3 separate regions of the Homo sapiens genome follow, and regions 1 and 2 are each linked to region 3. The links come from fine-mapping of genetic effects on gene expression. A gene starts in region 3. Each other region holds a variant in brackets. All regions are shown on one strand. Distances are from middle to middle.

Region 1 (5,000 bases), 55 kb after region 3:
CTGATGGCTTAGTAGAAAGGGAAAAACAAATGATCCATGGGAAAGAGAAGAGGTAACCTTAGGAAATCTTCACAAGAGTGATTGAGATTCAGTGCCCAAGTAGAGGACAGTAGCTTTAGAATAGAACACCACTACTTCATTGGCACCAGAGGGAAGCAGAGAATATGGGTATAGTTGGGGATAGCTTGGGAGATTTTCCAGTGATAGTTTGGAGAATATTAAAGATTTTGATTGCCTTTGCACTTACTCACCATGTTTGGAACAACCTCCAGCAGTGTTCTTGACACTGGAGATAGAACGCTGTACAATTTAAATGTTCTTGCTCTAAGATGGGTATTTAAAGAACATAGGAAAACGCTGTGCCAATGCTTAGAATAGTTCTGGCACAAAGTAGCTGTTCAATGAATGTTTGTTAACTGAATTTGGATGTATATACTCAAGTAACAGTGTTTAGATTTTGGTGTTTGTGAGACACCTCAGCTACTGACTGACTGTTGCTAAGGTGGGTTGCTTCTTACCGATAGCTTATCTCATTCTCCAAATTTAAGTGGGTACAACTTCATGTGTAATATACCTAAAAGCTCTGTGTGATACTTTAATAGGTACTTACTCTCCATGTGCACTAACTATATGTACCAAGTCCAATGAGAGGACAGAGAAGGGAGAAAGTTGTTATACCTAGGGAATTTGGGGTTAGCATCCTACAGGAGGTGACACCAATTAGAGTTTGAAGGAGAAGTATAGGAGTGCTAGCAAGATGTGGGTTGATAAGGAACACATCAGAAAGCACTTCACACCATTGACGAGTCTGAAAGAGCAGTTCACAGGCGGCAAATGGTGCTAAGTTTAGGATCATATTGGGGAGCTGGTTTAGTATATTCATCTCTCTCCTTGAATTGGTCCCATTTAAAAACAAAAACAATTCAATCCCTCTGTTCCATGTGATTCATCAGTCACTCCTTTTGTTTAGAATAAAACTTACTAAAGATTGATTCATATTTGCTATTTTTCCCTGGTATTTTGCTGGGTGTTATAAGGAAGTGTGAAACAAGAAATGTGTTTTGCCTGTACCAAACATTTGGTTGTAGAAATCAATAATACAAAAGAAAGCAATAGGAATTATTTATTAGTGTTTAATTGGATGTGTAGTTGTGTGCATCACACTTAGACGTAAGTTGTCTTCTCTTTGTATTCTGTTCTTTACCTAGAACCTCTTTACCTAGGTGCTTCACAAATCTTATCTTCTCCTCCCCATCTCCTTCCCTCTTTACCTTCCCCTTCCACCTGTTGATACAGTAGCTGCTTTAACAGGAATTACAAAAAGGAACCCAGGACAAGGCAAGAGTAATGGCAAAAGTGCAGTTTATGCACAGTTGCAGTGTTGGAACAATGATGTTGAAGCCAGAAATGTCTGGAACTGTGAATATCTTCAACTCAGTTATAGAATCATGCTCTGTACAATATATTCTGTAATGAAATGAGGAGTGAATCTGAATATTTTTTACACTAACATAGAAATTGTTTCATGATATCAGTTATCCCACTTAAAAATGAGTTAGACACCTCTCTCTTTTTAATCTCTCTATCTCACACACAGATACACACACACACACGCACACCACCACGAAATATGCTATATGTATCTTTTCATAATGTATTTTTAAAAAATAATTAAACCCCCTTCTCTCTTCAGAGTAAAGATGATGTTGGCCTATTGTGGTGGCTCATGCCTGTAATCCCAGCACCTGGGGAGGCTGAGGCGGGTGGATCACCTGAGATCAGGAGTTCAAGACCAGCCTGGCCACCATGGCGGCCCCATCTCTACTAAAAATACAGAAATTAGCTGGGCGTGGTGGCATGCGCCTATAATCCCAGCTACTTGGGAGGCTGAGCTGGAGAGTCATTTGAGCCCAAGAGATGGAGGTTGCAGTGAGCAGAGATCATGCCATTGCACTCCAGCCTGAGCAACAAGTATGAAACATCCTACAGGAGTGTGAAACTCCATCTCAAAAAAAAAAAAAAAAAAAGATGATGTTTTAACAATGAATGAAGTAACCGCTTCCCTAAAAGATATGCTTGAGCGGCTGGGTGCGGTGCCTCATGCTTATAATCCCAGCACTTTGAGAGGCCAAGGTGGGTGGATCACGAGGTCAGGAGTTCGAGACCAGCGTGGCCAACACAGTGAAACCCTGTCTCTACTAAAAATATAAAAATTAACTGGGCGTGGTGGCAGGTGCCTGTAATCCCAGCTACTTGGAAGGCTGAGGCAGGAGAATCGCTTGAACCTGGGAGCTGGAGGTGGCAGAGAGCCGAAATCACACCACTGCACTCCAGTCTGGGTGACAGAGCTAGATTCCGTCTCAAAAAAAAAAAATA[T/AAAT]ATATATATATATATATGTATATATATAGTGTATAGATTATATATGAGTGTGTGTGTATATACATATACATACATTCAAGCTAGGAAAATAACAATAATATTGTCATTGTTTATGTATTTTTAGTTTTTTGTTACCAAAAAACCACAGTTCTAATATGAATACTGTAAAGAGCTGAAAAAAAATTTCTAATCAGTGGTTTGAACCTATTTGCTAAAAATAATAAAATGCATCCTTCTAATTTATTTTTCTAAATGATTTACAACAAGGAACATGGAAATCTAATTCAACTTCAATAGAATTCTTTACATAATTAATGTATAGGACTGAAATTTTGTTACTGTGATTTAATAAGCATGGTATTTCTTCCATGAGTATAACTATATCTTTGTGGCATCCAGTGAAACCAGATATCAAAAATAAGTCCATCTTAGCGTCATACCTTTGAAGCATTATATTTTTGTGTGTAAGAAAGGTTTTGTTGTCATTCATAAATATATTTAAAAATTACTCTAAAAATGGTATTTAATTTTTGTTATGCTTTTGAAATTGCAGTATTTTAATCTTATACATAAGTAGTAATGCATATTCTATACATATTTTGGAGATACAAATGGAAAAATTTCTTAGTAATGGAGTATATGATTAAAAAAAAAAAAGCTGGAAGACAAACTTGTTTAAGCTGTAGTTATCTCCTACTGGTACTACTCCAGTAACCTCATTTTGTATCCTTAACTCCATTCTAGCTTTCTTAAAACTGTTCTCCACTTAGTAGGCGAGATGATCCTCACAATGTGCAGATGTAGTTGTGTAACTCTCCTACTTAATAAGCTGCACACACACAGGTCTTTAATATGGTCTATAAGTCTGTAAACTGTGTGATCTAGCATTTTAGGTCTTCAGTCTCATATCTCACCACTCTTCCACCTTTACTTTTTCCTCTCTGTGGGCTGCCTTTAAGTTCCTTGTACAAGCCATGCTCTTCCCTTTAAGCTGGACTTTACACATGTTTTCTCTCTCCCTATGGCACTTAGCCTATCTCTTCCTTTCCCAGTTTATTTCCTATATATCCTTCAAATTTCAATCTGAATGGCAGTTCCTCAGGGAAGCCTTTGCTCATCTTCCTGGCTAGATCATACACACACACACACATATGCACACATGCATACAAGCACACAGGTACACATGCATGCACAATTACAAACTCAATATAATTATGTGTATTTGCCCTTCATTGTGTTTATTACAGTTGCCATTTTACTTTGATTTGCGTGAGTACTTGCAAAGGTAGTAATTATTGACATTCAAATAGGTGTTAAGCTCCATGGGGGCAGGGCCCTTGTCAGTTTTTGCTTATCATTGTTTTCTCAGTACTTTGATACATGAGTAAGTGTGTTGCCAGAGAGTTTGGGTTTCATCCTTAGGAAAAAACAAAGAGTCATTGGGAAGTTCTATGAAAAATAGGAGAGCAGTGATGACGCATACTAAGACTTGGGCTGTAGAAGGGTAAACTTCTACAGGCTGTAGAAGGGAGGCTATAGCTGAGTAAAGGAGATAAACTAGAGCTAGGAAGATCCATTAGAAGGCCATTGTAGGTAAACAAGATGAAGACCTGAAGTCTTTCCGGTTCAGATGGTCTCGCCTTTGGTGGATGTTTAAGAGACAGAATCCAGTAGTATTTGTGGACCTGCTGACTATTGTCAGATATAAGACAAATAAATCAGATTATTTGGAATATGGGGCTATTAACTTTTAGGCCATTTACCAAGTAAATGAATATAAGACAATAAACAATTTGAGGGGGTAAAGGAATCTTCATTTTATTTTATTTTTATTATTTGTACAGATAGGATCTTGGTATGTTGCCCAGTCTGGTCTTGAACTCCTGGCCTCAAGCTATCCTCATTGCTTAGCCTCCCAAAGTATTGGGATTACCTGCATAAGCCACCACACCCATCCTGGAATCTTCATTTTAAACAAAAGTCACAAAAGTGACCTCTTGCCCACTGCTCTATATACAGTTTTTTAACAGCAGTACTGAGATGTGATTCACTTACCATGTAATTCACCTACTTCAAGTGTAGAGTTCAGTAGTTTTGAGTTTATTTATAAATCATCAACTCAAAAAGAAACTGTACCCTTTAGCTGTTATCCCTCTTTCCCTCTACCTTCCTAGCCTTAAGCAACCACTAATCTACTCTATCTCTATAGATCTCTCTGTTCTAAACATTTTATATAAATAGTATAATGTAGTATGTGGTCTTTTGTGACTATATTCTTTCACTTAACATTATGTTTTTAAGATTCATCTAAGTTGTAGCATGTAACAGTACTTCATTCCTTTTTATGGCCAAATAATATTCCAGTGTATAAGTATATATCACATTTTGTTTATACATTCATCAGCTGATGGACATTTGAGTTGTTTCCACTTTTTGGCTGTTATGAATAATATTGCTATAAACACTTATGTAGAAGTGTTTGTGTGGACATATGTTTACATTTTGTTTGGTTGTGTACCTAAGAGTGGAATGGCTGGGTCATGTGGTAACTCTGTGTTTACTTATTTGAGGAACTGCCAGAATGTTTCCAAAGCAGCTGTACCATTTCGCATTCTTACCAGGGT
Region 2 (11,469 bases), 150 kb after region 3:
CTAAGATCAGGAGTTTGAGACCAGCCTGACCAACATGGTGAAACCCCATCTCTACTAAAAATTCAAAAAATTAGCCAGGCATGGTGGCACGTGCCCGTGATCTCAGCTACTTGGGAGGCTGAGGCAGGAGAATCGCTTGAAGCCGGGAGGCAGAGGTTGCAGTGAACTGAGATTGCACTACTGCACTCCAGCCTGGGTGACAGAGCGAGACTCCATCTCAAAAAAGAAAAAAAAAAAAAGAAAGAATGATCATGTAAAGCAGATCCACAAATCAGAGCTATTTGGTTTTGGGATGCAGCCATTTACCCCCTGGAACCAACTCGGCACCCCACATTGGTGTTGCAGTTCATAAAGAGCTCTATCCACTCATTCTACGTGCTCTTCCTTCCCCCACAGCCTGTGAAATAGGTACAGGAAGCCTTTTGTCCCGTAGACAGGGAAGATGGAGTTTGGGGAGCTGGGTGACTTGCCCAAAGACACTAAATGAGTAAAAAGGGCTGAGATGAGCCCACCCTGCTTCCTGCAATAGGATAGCAGACAGTGTCATGAAAAAGAGAACCAGGAGACTATTCCAGCTCTGCATTTACTAGCTGTGAGGCCTAGACAAGTAACTTATGACTTCTCTAGGCTTCAGTTTCCTCACTTTAAAATCAAGATACAAATAGTACATACCTTATAAACTTGCGATTAATACCTGCAAAGTGTTTCGAATTGTGCCTGGCACTTAATCAGCACAGGTTATACAGTATATGCATTACCCTGGATCTCCATTAGGTAAGGGAGACATGCTTAAGAATAACCTCCAACCTCCATTAAAGGATATGTAAAACTTTACTTAAAAGCTTGCTATGGATACGACTCATACCCATCTACATCAACAATTCTCCCTCATTAAAAGGCGTGATTTCGTCCCTGTGACAATTCTTGTCAGCTAAATTGCCTTCACAATTATTTTCTGTTAGTGTTGAAAATACCCTTCTAACGGTGTGCCTCCTGCTAGGTGATATATGATTCTTAAAAACTTTCCCTATGCGTATGAAACTATAATTTCTTATCGGCTTACCTTATAGTTGCAGAAAGCTTTGGCCTGCAAGGAAAAGCAGTGTTTTCTAACACCTGAGCTTTAGGTATATTGATCCTAAACTCTTGCTAAATGTTTTACTTCACTTGGAAGGCTTGCAGCACACTCTTCTGAAACACATAGATTCTTCTGGCAGTTCAAATGACCCTCCTCTGATTTAAGTGTGCAATAAACATTAGTTATTGTTATTACTACTTTGCTGGTTTAAACGTTGTCTTTATCAAGGCAGGTCATACCTGTGTCTGTGACCTTTGTCTGAGGCCCTGTCTGAGTCAGGTGTCTCTTTTACCATGGAAAATCTCTAGTATTTTATTCTGTTTTCTAGACTGTCAGCTACTCCAATTGCTATAATTGTGTCTCCTACAATTTTTCAGCAGAGGCAGAAGATTTAATTTGCATTTTAAAATAATTTATGCAGAGTTCCAGGCAAGGAAGGTGGGAAGGTCACATCAGGGCCCACATTTATCTACAGTTCTCCATTACGATATCCATGTGTGGTTGACTCCTTTACTTTGCAGAGCAATCCAACTTCTTTCAATAACAGAATGCTTGAAAGAGGCAGAAGAATGAAGGAAATTAGATAAAAAGAAAAGAAAAATACAATAGCAAAAACTGTACAATTTTTAAGGGAAGTACATCACCACTCAAGCAGAAACAAAATGGAGGACTGTTTATTTCATTGCTCAATCAAAACATTCCATGAAAGACTGCCTTAAGTAATTTCAAAGGCTTCACTGATACATATGGGGGTGGGGAGGGAAGCTCCACTACCCCATGCCACAAAACTATTTGATATAACTAATGACATGCAAACACAATTTGCAAAAGCAGAGCATTATCACAATATGACATTTAAAAAATTGGTTGAGTAAACAGATTTCATATCTTTAAAACATAAAATAATTACACTGTATTGAGCCTGGGAAATCTTGGCAATATCTACAAACTTTCTCATTTACAGATAGGAACAAAGGCCCAGAGAAGTTAAGCCACTCATCCAAGCTCACTGAGCAGAGATTCTGCATTTGCTATTTTGGAATAAGTTGTCTACTTTCAAATGGTTTTTTAAAATGGGTATTACATACTTTTTGTTTGTACAGAACAGTCATATAAAATAGTTGCTCCTTAATTGTATCCATTACTATTTAATCGCTCATTTTTCTGTAATACTATTACTTTTTTAATAGTCACCTATTTCACTGAAAGGCTCCACTGGATTTGAAAACCAGATTCAGAAACATGGCACAAAGGTGCAATTCACAAACCACAATTTTTTTAAAAAATTAAGTAGTCATGCCAAATCAAAATAGCCACCCACAAGTGCCAAACACGTTTCTATTTCATGATGGAGACAACCACAAATTAAAAGTATCTGTCAAAATGTCTCTTTTCTCTAAGTCACCTTTACTTTCAAGATGTACTTGTTTGCAAATATTTAGCATTCACAGTACAACTGAAATTAGTTACATTCATAATGGTCACAATCGTTATTCTGTGTTCAAGACTCTCCAGAATCTTGATTGCCTAAAACGAGGTAGATAAACTTTTAAGTTTGTTGGTTGGGATTAATTTCCTTTAGATCTTGATCATCTATTTTTTAAATAGAATTCCAAAGTATTTAGCAAAAAAAAAATTGAAAATGTCTAAGCACTTTGCCTAAAAGTGGAAAAATATAATTCCAAAAGGTTATTACGAAAGTTGCATTACCTCATTTCAATTTAAAAACAGAATAAAAGCATCAAATTACAAAACCACCACATATCTTAAAGCTGACAACCTAACATCTTTCAACATTTAAAGAGACCCTTGCTCTAGCTCTGTCTTGGGATTGTGTAGCTGCAGAGGCATCAGGTGAAGGCTTTCAGGGGCCAGACCAGCTGCTGCCCCTTAACCTTTGACCCTGGATTTCAAGTTCCCTCTAGAGTTCAGGCCTGTCTCCTGGAGTTCTTTATAGGAAGCTCTCACTGATTTCTCAAATCCCATCTCTGGAGATGGGTCATGCTTCAGAAAGAAGCTGGAGGTGCAGGCCCATCTGGGTAAAACAGGCTGCCCTGGACAAAGCTGGAAACAGAATGAGGCTCCAGGCGTTGATTGGGCTGCAGTCTTGGGCGGGTTTGGACTGCGACGAGCAGGCCACGATAGATCAACCAGGTGGTAGCCCCAGGGACCTTCAGGTTGTTGGAGGCAAACTGGGCACTAGACCAGCTAAAGGCCCCGGAGTAGGTCGACGAGAGATTTCTGAGAAGGCTGGCAGACCACCGCGGATCTTTGTCTTTTTACGTGGAGCCATGGGCGAGGCGCTCAAGAACTTGCTGAAGGAGCTCGACTTCTTCAAGCCTCGGGCCAGGTCCTGGAGCATGAGGTCGTCAGCCAGGACGCCCAGAAATGCACTGGTGGTGGAACTGAGGATGGTGGCGGCCACCTGTACGGGGCGCCTGGCAGCAAGACTGCCACTTCCACCACCGGTCGCATCTGGCTCCGTGGTGCCTCGCAGGCCTGGATCGCCAAGAAGGCGGCGCAGCGCGTACGAGGAGCCGGGCCGCAGGTACTGGTAGGCGCGACGCCCGCTGTGATCACGCACGTGCACCTGGGCACCCAGACGCACCACCAGCAGCACGGCAGCGTCCTCGTGGCCGTGCAGTGCAGCCAGGTGCAGCGGCGTGTAGCCGCCGTGGGAGCGTGCGTTCACGTCGACTGGTGCGCCACTGCGCCGCGCGACCTCCACCAGCTGCAGCGCCATCTCGCCGTCGCCGCTCTTGGCGGCCCAATGCAGGGCCGTGAAGCCAGACATGAAGTCGCGCTTGGCCGCCAAGCCGCGGTCGCGCAGCAGCAGCCCGTGCAGCTGGTGGGTCCAGCGGCCCCCGGCAGTCCGCACGAGCCACTCGTGCTCGGACGGCTCCAGGGGCACCGCGGACGGCGGCGGCGCGGCGGGCAACTCCTCGGCGTCAGGGCTCAGCAGACGCGGGCCGGCGCGCGACAGGCGCCTCAGGTGCGGGGAGCGGCCCGGGCCCAGGCCGAGGCCCAGACCGGACTCTTCCACCGAGAGCCGCCTCAGCAGCAGAGGGGAGCTCCGCGGGCTCGGCTCCTCCGACAGCTGCCGGCGCAGGCCGGGCTCCTCCGCCCGGAGGCGGAGCGTGGCGGGGGCCGGGACGCAGCGCACCGGCAGCATACAGGGCTTCTGCTGCGGCGGCCCTTTCGCTGCCCCGGGCCCGGGCTCCGCGTCTGGCGGATCAGAGCAGGGCGATGCCGCCTCAGAAGGGGCCCTAGGCGGTGGGGCCGCGTCTGCGGAGGGTCTCTCGGTGGCCTGGGCTAGCTCAAGGGCTGGAAGCGGTGGGTCGGCGGACCGCTCCCCGGGCGGCTGAGCGGGCTCGGAGGCCGGCCCCCCCGGGGTGTCCTGTGGCTCTGTTGGCAGACCCAGGTCCCCTGGCGGCTCCACTGGCCGCGGCACCCGGACCAAGGGCGGAGCTCCCGGGGCAGAGGCGCTCCGCGGCAAGACCGTCGAAGTGGGTTTCGACGGCTGGGCCGCTGCCCCCGGGGGGCCGAAGGGTGCGGGCTCGGGCTCCGGGGGCCGGGGCTTCTTCCTCAGCACCACGAACTTGACGCCGTCGAGCTCCTTCACCACCGCCACGTTGTTGACGAACTGCTTGAAGCGGTCCCTGCGGGCGGCGCGGCCCCGCGGGTCGCCGGCATCGAGCAGCGGCTTGAAGCGGCTCAGCAGCTCGGAGTTGCGCACCTTCCCGCCGTGCTCCTGCAGGAAGCCCAGCACCGCCGCCTGGCTCACCCCGGCAGCCGCAGCGGCGGCGGCGGCGGCCAGCGCCATGGTGGGGCCCTGGGTTCCTGGCTCCCGGGGCGGGTGGGCGCCGCGTCGCCGCGGGACGCGCGGGAGCGGGGTTCCGGGAGGCGCGGCCGCGCTCACCTGGTGCCTTCCCCGCGGCCAGCCGGGCGTGTCCCCGAAGCTGGACCTCGGTCGCGCCAGTGCCGCTGGGCCGGGGCGTCTCGGGGCGAAGGGCGCCGGGGGCCGCGGGGAGCGCCCACCCCCAGCGCCCCGCCGGGCCCCGGCCTTCGGGGTAGGTTTCTGCCTTTGTATTCTGTCCAATGGGCGCCTGCTTCCATCCCCCGCGCCGCGCTCGCCTTACAGGTGACAGCTGCCCCCGCGATGCAGAGGGAACCGGAGCAGAAATTCCCGCCGCCCCCCGCCCGCCCCAGAATTAAAGGCGCAGCGCTCCAGCTCTGGTCTCGGTTGCTAGGTGGGTGTGTTCCCTAGGGACGCCGCGGTCCGCCAAGGAGGAATGGATTTTTATTCCTTTAATAAACATTTAACCACTGCAAAACACCAAGCGATGATTTCAGAACAATCTTTTTTTTTTAAAGGTCGTCAATACCACTCCAGTTTTTTTTTTTTTTTACTGTGTTTCATGCAGGAAAACGGCTTCATGAGATTTACAGCAAAACCAATTCACTCTGCGCGGCAATGCACGTTACTCTAGGTTTAGAGAGACGTTTTCAAAAGCAATTTTCTCATGGTAAGAGAATACATTTTCACGTAGAATTTGGGGTATAAAACCACAGGAAACATAAACATAACAGGAAAACATAGAGGAAAACATAAAGAAGGAAAAAAAATCACTTGAAATCACCATTAACATTTTGAAATATCCTCTCCCTGTCTCCCATGTGTGTATGTATGTTTATGCTTTAAAGTAAGAAAGCAATGCGGAGTCATGCCATGGTTTTAAACCTTCGTTTGTTCCACAGATAGGTATTGAGCACGTAGTTTGTGCCAGGACTTTTTTTTTTTTTTTTTTGGCTAAGATGCGTCAGTTAGCAAGACAGATTTAAAAACCCGTGACCTAGTGGGGCTCATGTGTTGGAGGAGAACAGAAGCATATGGTGAATCCGAAAACTATATGATATACTAAATACATGCTATGAAAAAAGCACAGCGGGGTATAACGGATGAGGGTCAGGTTGCAATTTTGATCTGGGCAGTCAGGATAGTACTCGTTGTGAAAGTGACATTTAAACAAGGACTTGAAGGAGATCAGGGAGTTATGTAGACGGGGAAGAGGTTTCTAGTTGAGGGAACTGCCTGGCAGAGGTAGAATCAGTTCCTTAATTTAAAATGCAGGCCGGGCGCGATGGCTCACGCCTCTAATCCCAGCACTTTGGGAGGCTGA[C/G]TTGGGCGGATGATCTGAGGTCAGGAGTTCGAGACCAGCCTGGCCATCATGGTGAAATCCATCTCTACTTAAAAATACAAAAATTAGCTGGGTGTGATGGCACGCACCTGTAATCCCAGCTACTCCGGAGGCTGAGGCAGGTGAATCGCTTGAACCCGGGAGGTGGAGGTTGCAGTGAGCTGAGATGGCGCCACTGCACTCCAGCCTGGATGACAAGAGCAAGCCCTGTCTCATAAATAAATAAATAATTGCAGTACTACAAATATATCTAACCAGAAGCAGCATATTGTAGTAGCTGAGAAAACAAGACTCTGGAGTCAACATTCTACACTTGAGTTCTGGCTCTACCTTGGGCAAATGCCTTGACTTCTCTGTGCCTCAGCTTTCTTGTCTGTAAAGGAATGAGGAAAATAGTACTTACCTGCTCAGATGGTTGAGAGAATTAAGTGAGAAAATAAACACAAAAGACTTAGCATAATGCTTGGCTTACAGTAATCATTTGAATTATTATTAGTAGTATAGTCACTACTATTAGTATTACTCAAAAGGAAAACAGAAGACTAAAATGTAAAGGGTCCCCTTTCCCCAATCCAATCCCCAGGGGCAATTTCTGAGTTCAGCCCTGTCCCCAAGATGCAAACAATTTAAACATTTCCCCCTCACTTTATATTGTGAGCATTCCTCCCAATGACAATAGCTAGTCTAGTCTTCAAAAACATACAACTTTTAATGATAGCATCAAATAAATGTAGTATTATACTTTGTTTTCTTGTTCTTCATTGTTTATATTGTTTCTAGTTTTTAATTCTTATAAATGATGCTGTTGATATATAAGACTTTGTGCACCTTTCTGAGTAATTCCTTAGGATAGGCTCCTAGGAGTAGAATTCGCAGGGCACGCACCATCACACGCAACAGCATCACACCCAGCTAATTTTATTTTTATATTGCCCAAGCTTGTCTCAAACCCTTGGCCTCAAGCGAGCCTTCCACCTCAGCCTCCAAAGATTACACGTGTGAGCCACTGCATCTAGCCTTACCCCAGCGCCCCCCCTTTTTCTTTTGAGATGGAGTTTTGCTTTTGTTGCCCAAGCTGGAGTGCAATGGCGCAATCTTGGCTCACTGCAAGCTCCGCCTCCCGGGTTCAAGTAATTCTCTTGCCTCAGCCTCCCAAGTAGCTGGGATTACAGGCATGTGCCACCATGCCTGGCTAATTTTTTATTTTTAGTAGAGATGGAGTTTCACCATGTTGGCCAGGCTGGTGTCGAACTCCTGACCTCAGGTGATCCACTCACCTCAGCCTCCCAAAGTGCTGGGATTGCAGGCGTGAGCCACTGCGCCTGCCCTACCTTACCCATTCTTTAGACTCACCTCAAGGCCCACCCCTGTAAAGCCTTCTGCAAACTGCCTCAGGTGTATCGTGCTCTGCATTCCTCAATAATTTATTTCAACAAACATCTATTGGATATCTTTGGGTGCAAGGCTGTAAGCCAGATACTCTGGGTAGAAGATACAATCTGCCTTTGAAGAGCTTACTGCTTAGTGGAGAAGAGAAAAACATTAAGTACAATTAATTATGTGACATAGCCAAATGAAATGAATGCTCCAGGTACTTACCAGAGCACGTGGGGGATGGGGGGTGAAGGGGTGGGGAAGGATAGGGAAGAGGGAGGACTGGGACATCTCCAAGAGGCAGGCTATGAGAACAGGATAGGTGAAAGCTTGAAAGTGGGACTGTGGGCCGGGTGTGGTGGCTCACACCTGTAATCCCAGTACTTTGGGAGGCGGAGGTGGGCAGATCATGAGGTCAGGAGATTGAGACCATCCTGGCTAACATGGTGAAACCCTGTCTCTACTAAAAATACAAAAAAATTAGCCGGGCATGGTGGCGGGCACCTGTAGCCCCAGCTACTTGGGAGGCTGAGGCAGGAGAATGGTGTGAACCCGGGAGGCAGAACTTGCAGTGAGTCAAGATAGTGCCACTGCACTCCAGCCTGGGCAACAAAAAAAGAAAGTGGGACTATGAAGGCTGAATTCAGGGTAAAGAGTGTCCAGTGTGTTTGAAGTTCAGGGTGTGTGCCAGGGATATGGAAAAATATAATGTTGGAAAAGTCATCTGGGGTGATGGGTGAAGGGCCTTAAATGGTAGTTTGGACTTTGCCCTGTTTGCAGTAGAATGTCATTGAGAGCTTGCTTTCTTCTTTTTAAAAAGTGGCTTTATTTTCTGATTATAGAATTAATGTTTTTTCCAATTCTCAATAGTTTCTAAAATATAAAAAGAATATGTCACATGTTAGAGAGCCACTTGATATTTTTTAGTTTATGCTGTGAGGAGTTTTTCTCTGTACATCCATAGATATATACACAACCATCTACACCATTTGGTACACATGGGATTAGACCGCGTGTTGCTAAGAACCCATGTTACCTTAGTCAAGACTGGTGTGGCGAATGGGCGGAAGAGGGGACCCTGGGGAGGTAGTGGCAGGGTCCAGTGGAAGACGGTAGGGCTTATCAAGCTCGGACAGTGGATGGGTGCCAAAGATACTTCAGAAACAGAACTTGCATTATATTGTCTTGTTTTCACTTTTAAAGTTATATTCCCTTTGTTTTAATTTTCATTTCAATAGCTACTTTTTATATTTTATTTTCCTACCTTTTTCTGGGCCAATTGTTGTGTTCCTTGAAAAGTCATTTCCATGATCTCATAGGTAGTGAAGCTTCAACTTGGACTTTTGTTACCATCTCTTGTCTCCAAGAAGAGAGATGAGGGAGAGCACTCTCTGTTAAAGATCATTATTGATTTATGTGGTTTGAACTAATTTTGACTATGATTGTAACCCCCCAATGGATTAATTTACCTTGCCCACTGCCTAGACAGAGCCGATTTATCAAGACAGGGGAATTGCAATGGAGAAAGAGTAATTCACACAGAGCTGGCTGTGCAAGAAGACCAGAGTTTTATTATTACTCAAATCAGTCTCCCTGAGAATTTAGGGACTGGAGTTTTTAAGGATAATTTGGTGGGTAGGGGGGCCAGTGAATTGGGGGTTCTGATCGGTCAGGTCAGAGATGAAATCACAGGGAGTTGAAGCTGTCCTCTTGCATTGAGTCAGCTCCTGGGTGGGGGCTACAAGACCAGATGAGCCAGTTTACGAGCCTGGGTGGTGCCAGCTGATGCATCAAGTACAGGGTCTGCAAAATATCTCAAGAACTGATCTTAGGCTTCACAATAGTGACGTTATCCCCAGGGGCAATTTGGGGAGGTTTAGAATCTTGCAGCCTCCAGCTGCCTGACTTCTAAACCATAATCTAATCTTTTGGCTAATTTGTTAATTCTACAAAGGCAGTCTAGTTCATTTTGGGAAAGGGCTGTTACCATCTTTGTTTCAAACTATAAACTAAGTTTCTCCCAAAGTTAATTTGGCCTATGCTCAGGAATGAACAAGGACAACTTGGAGGTTAGAAGCAAGATGGAGTTAGTAAGATCAGATCTCTTTCACTGTCTCAGTTATAATTTTGCAATGGTGGTTTCATGATCGCTAAGAGTAGACAAGGATTAAATACTGATTGAACAGGAATTGCTAGTACAAGCCGTTTATTGACAGTGCTTAACAGGCTTCAGGCTCTGAGCTACATAAGGAAACTTGGCCAAGGTCACAGTTAACAATTGGCTGAGCTCAAACTGGAACCCCAGGCTACCTGCCTATGCTCATTTACCATGCAAAGTTAGGTCACTGATGATTTAAAATTGATGTTCTGAATGTTTAATAAATAAAGTAGGGAAAAACTCCTCACAAATACCTTACTTAAACTTTTATTTATGCTTGTGCTTCTGAACATACTCTGCTTTAATATTTTAAGTGATAAGTTTATAGTTTGAGCAAACATTACAGTGAGGATGCTAATGACATCCAGTTCCCCAGGCTGCTTTTCAGTTTTGATGCCCTGTTGCCAGTGAGGCCAGAGAATCAATTCTTCCAGTGACCCAGCAGTTTGCCCGCAACATTAGGAAAATCAAATATAAAATGTATATTTATAGCAAGGATAAAATTCCATGATGTGTCTTGAACATGGAGAATGAAATAGGAAGGCTATTTGTTCTTATCTCAGTATCTTAAATATGAAGCAGATCAGGGTAGAGGCCCTCTGTAATTTTTAAAGCTACAATATTTAAATATAAAATAAAATAATTTCATAATCTTATGCTATGTTACATTACATTTATATTATTATTTTTGAGACAAAGTCTCGCTCTTGTCCCCTAGGCTGGAGTGCGATGGCACGATCTTGGCTCACTGCAACCTCTGCTTCCTGGGTTCAAGTGATTCTCCTGCTTCAGCCTCCTGAGTAGCTGGGATTACAGATGCCTGCCAATGGTATTTTTGTGTTTTTAGTAGAGACAGGGTTTCACCATGTTGTTCAGGCTGGTCTCAAACTCCTGACCTCAGGTGATCTGCCCACCTCGGCCTCCCAAAGTGCTGGGATTATAGGCGTGAGCCATCACGCCTGGTCTGTATTCTGTTCTGTTCTATTCCTTATTCCAATCCACACTACCCTCTGAACCCCATGCCTAGGCCCCACCAAGAGCTGTAGCGGATGCTTAATGTTTGTAAATGTCTTCTCCCCTACCATGGCAGTGCAAATCAGCTCCTTCCATTGCGTTTATCCAACGCAGCCTGCCACCTCTGCCCCCTGGTGTCTCACCAATACATCTCATCTGTAAAGAAGAGTTCCTCCGGTCCCAGGAGGCAGGAGCTCCAGGGACTTGAGGGGGATGGGCTGCCCAGCAGTGGCTGTAAAGGGACTTTGCCCAGATATCAAGCTTTTGCGGTCAACTTCCGGAACAAATCGTGCTTTGTTCTTGCTTCCAGCCCAGGGGAAGCAAAGGGGACCTCTCTCATGCCTGCAGCTTGTTAAGCCCACTTCTCTCTAAGGTCAAAAGAACTTTATTTCTAAATCTGAGTGAAAGTGTCAGCTCACGTGTTTCTGCTGTAGACTGAGTTTTTGACTCTGCAGTTCATTTTTCAGGCTGCTGCTTCTCTGATTGCTCAGACTATTGCTTGGTTGCTAAGTAGGGAGCCACAGACCTGGTCCACGGAGACTTGGAAAGCTGTGTCCTGGCTTCATGAATCTCCAGCAGTTGGTGCCCTTTGCTACCCATCTTTAATCATCCCTTTCAGTCCCTTGCCTTCTCAGGTATGAGGTGTT
Region 3 (11,469 bases):
AGGTGGATTACCCGAGGTCAGGAGTTTGAGACCAGTCTGGCCAACATGGCGAAACCCCGTCTCTACTAAAAATACAAAAATTAGCTGGGCGTGGTGGTGGGCGCCTGTAATCCCAGCTACTCAGGATGCTGAGGCCAGAGAATCACTTGAACCTGGGAGGCGGAGGTTGCAGTGAGCCGAGAGATCTCGCCACTGCACTCCAGCCTGGGTGACAAGAGCAGAACTCTGTCTCAAAAAAAACCTTTCCTTACTATGTCCACAAATCCCAATGTATCATGATTCTTACCCAGTTGTAATCAAGCCCCTTGAATTGAAAAACTCTCTTAAATCAGATCCCCAAACCTTATAAATATTCCAACTTTGCTTTCCCCCTTAAAGATGTTACTGAGACTGTGTTAAGGTAGTGATCTTTTTTATTGAAGTGAACAATAACTCAGTTTTGCTTTTTTTTTTCTTGAGACAGAGTCTCATTCTGTCACCCAGGCTGGAGTGCAATGGTGCAGTCTCGGCTCACTGCAACTTCCACCTCCCGGGTTCAAGCAATTCTCCTGCCTCAGCCTCCCAAGTAGCTGGGATTACAGGCGTCCGCCACCACGCCTGGCTAATTTTTTTGTATTTTTAGTAGAGACAGGGTTTCGCCAATGGGTTGTCTTGGTGGTATTTTGGGGGAGCTAGTATCTGACAATTGTCTTATCCATGTGCTTAGAACAATACCTGCTATATAGTAGATGTTTAATAAATATTTGATAAATAATGAATAAATTATCTGAGTTTCTAAAATAATATGGAATAATGTTTACGTAGCTGTAGTTGTGACTTGGTAGTTCCTATATCTAGATGTGATTTTCAGAAAATATTGGTGGAGATCATTTAAGGCCCAAATGAAACCTTGTACATGGATATTTATAGTAGCTTTATTCATAATTTTTATTTTATTTTATTTTTGGACTTCTACAATGACTTCTAATTGTTTTTTGTTAATGGAAACAACCCAAATGTTCTTCAACTGATTAATGGCTAAACAAGCTATGTTATATCCACACAATGGAATACTATTCAGTGATTAAAAAAAAAAAGAAAGTACTGATACATGAAAACAACAATGGATAAATTTCACAAGCATTATACCAAGTGAAAGAAGCCAGACTTGAAAGGCTATATACTGCATGATTCCATTTGTTTGATATTCTGGAAAAGGTAATGGTATAAGGACAAAAAGTAGATCTATGTTTTCCAGGAACTGGGGTTGAAATGAAGGGTTCATTACGAAGGGGCAAGAGGGAATATTTTGTGGTGATTGAAATGTTCTATATCTTGACTGTGGTGGTAGTTACACAACTGTATGCATTTGTCAGAACTCATAAAACTGTACATTATATACTTTTTTTTTTTTTTTGAGACGGATTCTCACTCTGTTGCCCAGGCTGGAGTGCAGTGGGAAGATCTCGGCTCACCACAACCTCCACTTACCAGGTTCAAGTGATTCTCCTGCCTCAGCCTCCTGAGTAGCTGGGATCACAGGTGTGCGCCACCATGCCTGGCTAATTTTTGTATTTTTAGTAGAGAATGGGTTTCACCATGTTGTCCAGGCTGGTCTGAAACTCCTGACCTCAAGTGATCTGCCCACCTCTGCCTCCCAAAGTGCTGGGATTACAGGGATGAGCCACCACGCCCAGCCAAGGATGAATTTTATGATATGTAAATTTTACCTTCAAAAACCTAACTTAAAAACAGTACTCAGTTACTAAGTATTGCTACTCTAACAATATACATTAAATCTTTATTTTTTTTTGAGACAGAGTCTTGCTCTGTTGCCCAGGCTGGACTGTAAATGGCACAATCTTGGCTCACTGCAACGTCTGCCTCCCGGGTTCAAGCAGTTCTCCTGTCTCAGCCTCCCAAATAGCTGGGATTATAGATGCACACCACTGTGCCCAGCTAATTTTTGTATTTTAGTAGACACAGAATTTCGCAATGTTGGCCAGGCTGGTCTCGAACTCCTGACCTCAGATGATTCACCTGCTGTGGCCTCCCAAAGTGCTGAGATTACAGGCATGAGCCACCGTGCCTGGCCTAAATCCTTTGTTAAAATCTTGCATGCTAGTAAAACAATCATATTTTGCTTTGAGATTTTTGTTTCTTTTTTTTTTTTTTTTTTGAGACAGAGTCTCCCTCTGTCGCCCAGGCTGGAGTGCAGTGGCACGATCTTGGCTCACTGCAACCTCTGAAGCCCGAATTCAAGCAATTCTCCTACCTCAGCCTCCTGAGTAGCTGGGATTACAGGCGCCTGCCACTGCCCCCAGCTAATTTTTGTATTTTTAGTAGAGACAGGGTTTCACCATCTTGGCCAGGCTGGTTTTGAACTCCTGACCTTGTGATCCACGTACCTCAGCCTCCCAAAGTGCTGGGATTACAGGCATGAACCACCGTGCCCGGCCTTTGTTTCTCTTTTAGTTTTATGGTACGTCATTTTCTGCAATTTCTCCATTCTGCACAGTAGTCTTACACTGTTCTAGAACATGAAGTTAGAGACAGAACATTCACTTTGTTAAAACAGATGTAACTTCTTAAACAAAATGATACAATATTAAAATATTAAAAACTTAGAAATAATTTTAGGAACTTTTTCTTTTATTTGCTGAAACAGAGGAAACTTTTTTTTTGAGATGGAGTTTTGCTCTTGCTGCCCACGGTGGAGTGCAACAGCAAGGTTTTGGCTCACCACAACCTCGGCCTCCTGGATTCAAGTGATTCTCCTGCCTCAGCCTCCTGAGTAGCTGGGATTATAGGCACTGGCCACCACGCCCAGCTAATTTTAGTATTTTTAGTAGAGACTGGGTTTCCCCATGTTGGTCAGGCTGGTCTGGAACTCCCGACCTCAGGTGATCTGCCTGCCTTGGCCTCCCAAAGTGCTGGGATTACAAGCATGAGCCACCACACCTGGCCGGAAACTTCTTATTTGCAGAATAATGCCAAATAAAAGGCTATACTGGCCATTCCTCCCCTTTTTGGTTTTTAAATAAGGTTTCATTTTGTATTGAAAAAGTATCACTATCCTTTATGGAACAAAAGCATATTATTATTTGCGTTAGCCAAATAACATTTACTTCAGAATAAGCAAGGAAACTTAAAGTTTGTTACATATTTTCAATTTGCACCTTAATACTCATCTTTAATCAAAATTATTATGGTGTGGCCGGGAGTGGTGGCTCACGCCTGTAATCCCAGCACTTTGGTAGCCCGAGGCGGGTGGATCACGAGGTCAGAAGATCGAGACCATTCTGGCTAACACGGTGAAACCCCATCTCTACTAAAAATACAAAAAAATTAGCCGGGCGTAGTGGCGGGCACTTGTAGTCCCAGCTACTGGGGAGGCTGAGGCAGGAGAATGGCGTGAACCTGGGAGGCAGAGCTTGCAGTGAGCCGAGATGGCGCCACTGCACTCCAGCCTGGGCGACAGAGCGAGACTCTGTCTCAAAAAAAAAAAATTATTACGGTGTAAAGTGACAAATATTCTTTTCTTTTGCCACTCTCCATCCCCTCAACCCTCCAACCTATACAGCCTTGTAAATCTTCTTAAGCAGAATTTGAAAGCAAGTAAATGAAATAGGCACAATTTCTGTGTAGGATAATTTGGTAATATCTATCAAAATTAAAAATCCTTTTGATCTAAAGATTCCAGGCTAAGGATTTATCATACAGGTATAATTTGCTCATTATATGGAGTTGTTTTTCGTTTTTAATTATTTTAACTTTTTTGAGACAGGGTCTTGCTCTGTCACTGAGACTGGAGTGCAGTGGTGCGATTAGGGCTCATTGCAGCCTTCATCTCCTGGGTACAAACGATTCTCCCACCTCAGCCTCTCTAGTAGTTAGGACCACAAGCCTGTGCCACCACAAACGGCTAATTTTTTATTTTTTGTAGAGATGGGGTCTCACTATGTTGCCCTGTCTTGTATGAGGTTATTCATTGCAGCTTAGCATGTAATAGTAATGGCTTGGCAACAAGCGGAATATCCACCTGTAGGGGATTGGTTAAATAAATTAGGATGTTTGCATAAGTGGAATATTATTCTGCCTCTAGGAAGAAAAAGGTAGTTCATTATATACTGATATGGCAGGATGTCCAAGACATTTTTTTCTTTTTTCTTTTTTTGAGACAGGGTCTCACTCTCATCCAGGCTGGATGGCAAGCTCCCGGCTCACTGCAGCACCGACCTCCTAGGCTCAAGTGATCCTCCCACCTCAGTCTCCAGAGTAGGTGGGACTATACGCATGCACCACCACGCCCGGCTAATTTTTGTATTTTTCATAGGGATGGGGTTTTGCCATGTTGCCGGGGTTGGTCTCAAACTCCTGGTCTCAAGCGATCAGCCCCCCTCGGCCTCCTAAAGTGTTGGGATCATAGGCCTGAGCCACTGTGCCCAGCCTATCCAAGATATTTGAAGTGAGAAAAAAAGGACTGAACAGCGTATATAGTGTGTTACCTTTTGTGTAAAAAGAAGTATCCCTATATTTTAATGTATTACTTACAAATATGTAGGGAAAGATACATTATTAAATGCTAAGTGATTGCCTTCCAGGACTGAAACAGCTAACAGACAGAGATGGGAGAATCAATTATTTTTTATTCTGTCATGTTTTGAGTTTTCTATTAAGACATTTCCTAATTTATATAGCTCTATAGAGAAAATGCATATAAAGAGTGAAGCTTAAAAGAAATAGTAGATGTTTAGAGGTGAAAGAAGTGTTCAGAATGATATGCTGAAGAAAAACATTAGTGGGCCGGGTGCGGTGGCTCACGCCTGTAATCCCAACACTTTGGGAGGCCCAGGCGGGTGGATTGGTTGAGGTCAGGAGTTCGAGACCAGCCTGGCCAACATGGTGAAACCGTGTCTCTATTAAAAATACAAAAATTAGCCGTAGGTGGTGGCTCCCCCCTTTAATCCCAGCTACTCCGGAGGCTGAGGTACTAGAATCGCTTGAACTCGGGAGGCGGAGGTTGCAGTGAGCCGAGATCCCGCCATTGTACTCCAGCCTGGGCGACAACAGCGAGATCTATCTCAATAAATAAATGAAAAGGAAAACATTAGTGGCAGAAGATGTTTAAATGACGAAGAAAGAGGGACGGTTTGGCTTCTTAGGGTAAGTTTACTGGAAATACCGAACAGCCTCCTGCGTCCTTTGCCTTTTTGCTGGACCTCTTGAGGACTCGAGGCTTCGACACCTGGAAGCAAGTCTAGGAAGCTCCGGGTTGGGCCGGATCCCCACCAGAGGCGAGGGGCGGAAGGCCTGGGTTTGTCACCTGAGCCCCAGAACCGGCATATCCGGTTCGGCCCGGCCCCGCCCTTCGGAACCTCACTAGCGGGCTACGCGCAGGAGGGCGTGAGCTCCCGGATGTGCAGGCCCTGTACTGCCGTGGCAGCCCTGCCGGACGCGGCCGCAGTGCCCAGAGGCTCAGGCCTATACCGCTCGGGCGGGTCCTTTGCCTGGCCCGGGTCATCAGACCCCACAGCCGGGAACGTCACCACCCCGGGCGTCGCCTCCCGGCCCAGCCGGCCCACAGACCCCCGCCCCCTACTCCCCCAGCGGGGAGGGGCGCAGAGGCATCACGTGACGCCCCGCACCCGCCCGGTCTTGGTCACATGGTGGCACGGCCGCTGCGTCAGTCACAGCCCTGGCTGCAGGAGTCCAGCTGCCGTCGCCGCCGCCAGCGGACGGGGCGGGGATCCTGGTGCCAGGTCTTCGTTAACCCGCCCCCGCCGCCTCAGTCAGCTGTCCCAGCCCGGGCCCGACCGTCATGGAGCGGTGCGGGGCCTACGCCTGTTCCGTGTGAGGCGCATCGCTGCCGCCGCCGCCGACGCCGCCTTCGTTTGTCGAGGCCTCCGGAACCCCCGCCGCCTCCCGGAGCCCCTCGCCCTTGGCAGCCTGTCACCGCCCCCTGGGCGGGCTCGAATGCGCGTCCGGTGAAGGTGCAGGCCCGGCGCCGCCACTGCCGCAGCCAGGAGATGGTTCGGGCCTAGCGGAGCCGGGACTGGAGGTAAGAAGGGCCGACAGACTGACCCAGGGCCGGGCCGGGCCGCGGGGGTTGTGGCCGGGGCCGGGTGGGGGTGGGGGCCCGCAAGTTCTGCGGGGAGCCTCGGGGAGACCCTCCGGGCTGGGGCTGCTCAATCAGGCGTCACCCCTCCTCTCATCTGCGCGTCCCACCCCACCACCTTCCCGCAAAGATAAGAAAATAAAAAAAGCTAACCCAATCCTAACAAAAATTCCCAGAAATCCATCCGTTTAGTGTTTCTCCTTTCCTCTTTCTTTCCTCAGACGTTCCATCGGCTGATTTGTTACTTTTTCATATCCTCCTCAATTTCAAATTATGTCTAATTAAAGAGAAAATAGGCCCAGATTCTGGCTAACATTACCCAGCTAGTTCTCGCTTTCCTTCTCGCGATCCTGCGCACCTCTCCCACACCCCCACCCCCGCAAAAAAAAAAAAAAAAGAAGGAAAAATTTCCGCCTTCGACTTGCGAAGGGGATTGACTAAAAATGGGAACGTGGGGGTATAATACTCGAATACCCTCCCCTACAACTTCTGAATCGGTCTGTTACCTAGTTATCCCAGTAGCTTGTGCGTGGATATTGATGTTTAGGCCTTTCCTCCAGCTGCCTGTGCTTGGGGTTAATCTCGTAATTGACGTCAGTGCTTTGTTCCTTCTACTTTGCTGTTCCTTCCACTCTTTGAGGATGGATCATGGAGTACAGGAGTTTTGGGAGTAACCTTATTGCCTTTTCGTTTACAAACAGTATTATTTTCAGGAAGTGGAAGTACGAATCTGAAATGTTTGTATATGGAGTTCAAGGCGAAGAGTTCGATTTAGGGTTCTCGTAGTTTTGTCAGTTGTAATTCAGAATTATGCGGTTTCTTCCCTGCTGGCCACATGGAAATTTTATACTAAGGCCAGTCACTTTTCCATTGACCAGTGTTTTTCTTGATGGAATCTAAGCTATAGGTGTCTGTGAATAGACTGTAAATGTAACATAAAATGTGTGCTGTTTTTCGGGCTCAGATATGAAAAGCGCAAAGCTTCGTTTCTGTATTGATTCTGCACTTCATAAAGTGCTTTTTAAAACTTAACTGGTCTTTAACTTATCAAAATTGAAATATTTATGAGAACTTTCTTAATTTGGGATTTGATAAAGAGCCTTTGTGGTCTGTGAGTCTGCCTAGAATCATCTTTGGTCATACGTGCATAAAGAAGTGTTGGCAAGTGGCCACTTGGTTTTCAACAAAGCTGGCTTCTTTAAATTTCTCAGATTCGTTTTCCTTATTATCACTGCATCTTTCAGCTCCTAAATATAAGAAAAATTCCCAGTAAGTTATTTTAAGTTATCTTTCAGAGTTAACTTACTAAAAACCTGGAAGCAGTCAAATTTTTCTTTTTTTATTACCAGCAGTTTCATTCAATTTGCGGTGGTTTGCAGGCTGGTACTTTGATTTTTGTTAACTCTCTAGAAACAGTAGGCAAATTTTACTTTAAATAAAATTTTGCTTCAAGTGGGGACAAGATGGGGTGTCTGAAAAAAGAGCCCAGCTGTGTTAATTGGAACATGATCTACAGTTTGGGAGTGTAAGGTGAAGCTGTGTAATTAAGAATTCTTAAAGATTGAATATTTTTGTTCTGAGTCACTTTCTACTTGTCAGATTCTCACATTCAGGTTGATACATTCTCTTCTGTGTACTCTTGAGTTATTGTACCCTTTTTGTAGCAATATATTCTGCAGCCGGGCCTGGTGGTTCACGCCTGTAATCCTAGCACTTTAGCACTTTGAGAGGCCGAGGTGGGCGGATCACCTGAGGTCAGGAGTTCTAGACCATCCTGGCCAACATAATGAAACCCCGTCTCTACTAAAAATACAAGAATTAGCCAGGTGTGGTGGTGCACACCTGTAGTTCTAGCTACTTGAGAGGCTGAGGCATGAGAACCAAATTAGCCAGACATGGTGGTACATGCCTGTAGTCCCAGCTACTCCAGAGGCTGAGGCACGAGAATCGCTTGAGAATCGCTTGAACTGGGAGGCGAAGGTTGCAGTAAGCCGAGATCACACCACTGGAATGCAGTGGCTCCATCTCTGCTCACTGCAACCTCTGCCTCCTGGGTTCAAGCGATTCTCCTGCCTCAGCCTCCTGAGTAGTTGGGATTGCAGGTACACACTACCATTCCCAGTTAATGTTTTTTGTATTTTTAGTAGAGACGGGGTTTCAGCAGGTTGGTCAGACTGGTCTCGAACTCCTGACCTCGTGATCCACACGCCTCGGCCTCCCCAAAGTGTTGGGATTACAGGCATGAGCACTGCGCCCGGCCAACCTAGGCGATGTCTCAAACAAGCAGAAGCCTACTATATGTTTTGCACTGTAATTTTCTTTTTTTCCCTGTCTCTTGCAGATATTGAGGGATGCATAATAATTTTCTTACAGATCTGTTACAGGGTCTTTGAGGAAGTACTATATTTATTCCTCTTTTTATCTTCCTCAGTATTTTACACAATTACTAGATTGAATTTGAATGTGATAATATTTTGAACTTGAAATTGTTGTTCTATCAACTTATCTAAGATTTCACAAAAAGGTAATGTAAAGAAAGCTGTATGAGCAAAGGATCAGTATTTGAAAGGGAAAAACCTGTCAGTTTCAGAAGATGAGACAGAAGATGAAGCTTTCTAAAAGTTATATATTTTGCCTTTTTTGAGAAGGTAAGGTAAATGCCGTAGTTTTATGTGTACCTGAGAGGAACAAATAAAACAGGTATTTCTTCCTTTGTGGCCATCCACTGGTTTAGAATGGAGTTCAAAATCTATGAGGACTTTTCTTTGTGGTATTTTTAATAAAATCAAAGAGGTATTCTTAAGTATTGAGAGCACACCTGGACAATGACCCAGAAGTACAGCATGTACTATAAAAAATTGATGACTTAGATTTTTTTTTACTTTAGCTTTATTCTACAGATATCTCACTATGAAGACTTTTCTATATGATATAAAGGTTCCCAGCTCTCCTGCATCCTTATTATGTTTTACCCATTCCCTTATTCATTTCCTCTGATAAGTTGGAACAATTCTATTTGATTTCTGGGAGGGTGTTAGCTAGTCTCAGTTATTGTGAAAGAAGGTGTAGTGACTAAAGACTGCCTAAAGCTAACCTGACCTGTTACCTTGCTGCTTTTTCCTTTGGTTTAAGAAAAGCGCTCCTACTGGCCAGGCGCAGTGGCTTATGCCTGTAATCCCAGCACTTTGGGAGGCTGAGGCTGGCGGATCACGAGGTCAGGAGATCGAGACCATCCTGGCTAACACGTCTCTACTAAAAGAATACAAAAAATTAGCTGGGTGTGGTGGCAGGCGCCTGTAGTCCCAGCTACTTGGGAGGCTGAGGCAGCAGAATGGCGTGAACCCAGGAGGCGGAGCTTGCAGTGAGTCGAGATCGCACCACTGCACTCCAGCCTGGGCAACAGAGCGAGACTCCGTCTCAAAAAAAAAAAAAAAAAAAAAAAAAGAAAAGCACTCCTACTTGTTGTTAACTCCCTATACATACCCTTCTTGGTTATTTGAAGTGATACTCTAGTACACGGAAGAGGGCAGTAATATATGTTCCAGTTACTGAGTTTTGGCACATCATCTGCATTCCTGTTTGTCTTGATGTTCATTTTCGCTGGTATCATATCTTGAAAGTTTTAACGATACTGGGGCACAGAAAATATTAGAACCTCCAAATTCAATTCCAGAGTATTCCAAAACATTTTAATACTAGAACTACCTATTCTATTTTTGAAGAAAAAAAATCTTAGCTACCTGCTTTATCAGCTATTCTTTATTTAAAAAAATCTGTAACCTTGCCGGGCCCGGTGGCTCATGCCTGTAATCCCAGCACTTTGGGAGGCCAAGGTGGGCGGATCACGAGGTCGAGAGATCAAGACAATCCTGGACAATATGGTGAAACCCCGTCTTTACTAAAAATACAAAAATTAGCTGGGCATGGTGGCGCCTGTAGTCCCAGCTACTTGGGAGGCTGAGGCAGGAGAATCGCTTGAACCTGGGAGGCGGAGGTTGCAGTGAGCTGAGATCGCACCACTGCACTCCAGCCTGGCAACACAGCAAGACTCTATCTCAAAAAAAAAAAAAAAAATCTGTAACCTGAGGAATGTTCTGACAGAAGGCATTTTATGTAACTTTTTCTCTCTTGGAGTTCTTAATGAACTGTGTTGGTGGCTTTTAGGCAAGGAAACGTAGCTTATTAGTGGATACTGTTTTAAACTAATTACTTCAATAATCATTTCCTAGGACAGGTAAAAGAACTTCATGTATTCTTTTCCCAAGGTTGTTGGGTAGGAGGAATCAGGGACTGACATGAATAGACTGCACTGGAAAGCCAGTATGGTTTGATTACCCAGAGATCTGTTCGGGGACAGGGCTGCCTGGAGTTGCTTTGGGCCTAATAGCTCTCCCAGGATTTTGTCAGTTTGGAGTTGCCTAGTGGGTTATGACTTTTCCTTTTCATGTCATCATTAGGGAAGGGACAGTTTTATGGAGAGATGAGTACCAGCCAATACTCTGTAGAGACACACCTTCTTACCTTTTTGCAGTTGCTTCCATTTCTTCCAATTGGAATATTATTTCTTCTAACTTGTTTCTTACCTGTTAAAATTTCACCGTTTTTAAAGGCCTGATTTACGTTTCATTGCCTTCTTGAAGTTTTGGTTAATTCTTCACCCCACTCCAGTTGTGATCTACTTCCTTTCAATCTCTGCATCACTTTGTAGCTCCTTTTTTTTTTTTTTTTTTTTTTTTGAGACAGGGTCTCACTCTGTCATCCAGGCTGGAGTGCAGTGATGTGATCTTGGCTCACTGCAACCTCTGCTTCCCAGGCTCAAGCAATTTTCATAACTCAGCCTCCCGAGTAGCTGGGACTACAGGTGTGCACCACCATGCCCTGCTAATTTTTTTTGTATTTTTTGTAGAAATGGGGTTTCGCCCTGTTGTCCAGGCTGGTGTACCTCTTTTAATTATTTGTTATGCAGCTACTATGGGACTATAGCCTGCTGAGTAACATCACGAAAAATGTATTAGGGAAGACACTAGTAAAAGAAGGACTGTAAGTGTTGTAATATTTCATTATGTGTTTCTAAAATATAAAGATTAAAACAATCCCAATATTATACACTAAAAAAAGTAACACGCATTCCTTAATATCATCAATATCAAGTGTTCACATTTCCCTGATTATAGTTTTTGTATTGTTTTTACAATTTTTGTGAATTAGGATCCAAATAAGGTCTGTAAATATTACATTGGGTTTAGGTAATCGATACTTTTTTCTTTTAATCTATAAGTTTTCCTCTATCTTTTTATTGTGGTTATTCCCATACAATTGGTTTGTTGAAGAAGCCAGGTCTTTGCCCTATGATACTTCTCAGAATCTAGATT

Direction of the effects. Positions count from the first base shown, and alleles are read on the strand shown. Sizes are in standard deviations (SD) of each study's normalised expression. Not every link is listed here.
In carriers of allele T in region 1, the expression in B cells of the gene that starts at base 5,665 in region 3 tends to be lower than with AAAT alone (large effect, 1.3 SD a copy in Schmiedel 2018).

What was found. PIP is the estimated chance that this variant, and not a neighbour inherited with it, causes the effect.
Region 1: its variant is fine-mapped to the expression of AFF4 in B cells (Schmiedel 2018, PIP 0.95).
Region 2: its variant is fine-mapped to the expression of AFF4 in whole blood (TOPMed, PIP above 0.99).

Annotation. Positions count from the first base shown.
Region 1 is chr5:132,906,151-132,911,150 of GRCh38, reverse strand. The region is part of intron 5 of AFF4 (ALF transcription elongation factor 4); the gene reads left to right. Among named protein-coding and RNA genes, the nearest start is that of LEAP2, 35 kb to the right of the region's middle. The variant T/AAAT (reference allele first, on the strand shown) is at 2,377.
Region 2 is chr5:132,807,054-132,818,522 of GRCh38, reverse strand. It overlaps SOWAHA (sosondowah ankyrin repeat domain family member A), which reads right to left and starts at 5,221. Exons shown (of 1, transcript NM_175873.6): 1 at 1,737-5,221. The coding sequence starts at 4,901. The coding sequence ends at 3,252. RefSeq lists enhancers at 3,076-3,576, 3,577-4,077 and silencers at 4,117-4,186, 9,752-10,046. The variant C/G (reference allele first, on the strand shown) is at 6,259.
Region 3 is chr5:132,957,830-132,969,298 of GRCh38, reverse strand. AFF4 (ALF transcription elongation factor 4) reads left to right here and starts at 5,665. Exons shown (of 21, transcript NM_014423.4): 1 at 5,665-6,040. AFF4-DT (AFF4 divergent transcript) reads right to left here and starts at 5,487. Exons shown (of 2, transcript NR_186175.1): 1 at 5,165-5,487; 2 at 4,609-5,058. RefSeq lists a silencer at 5,371-6,210 and an enhancer at 8,137-8,638.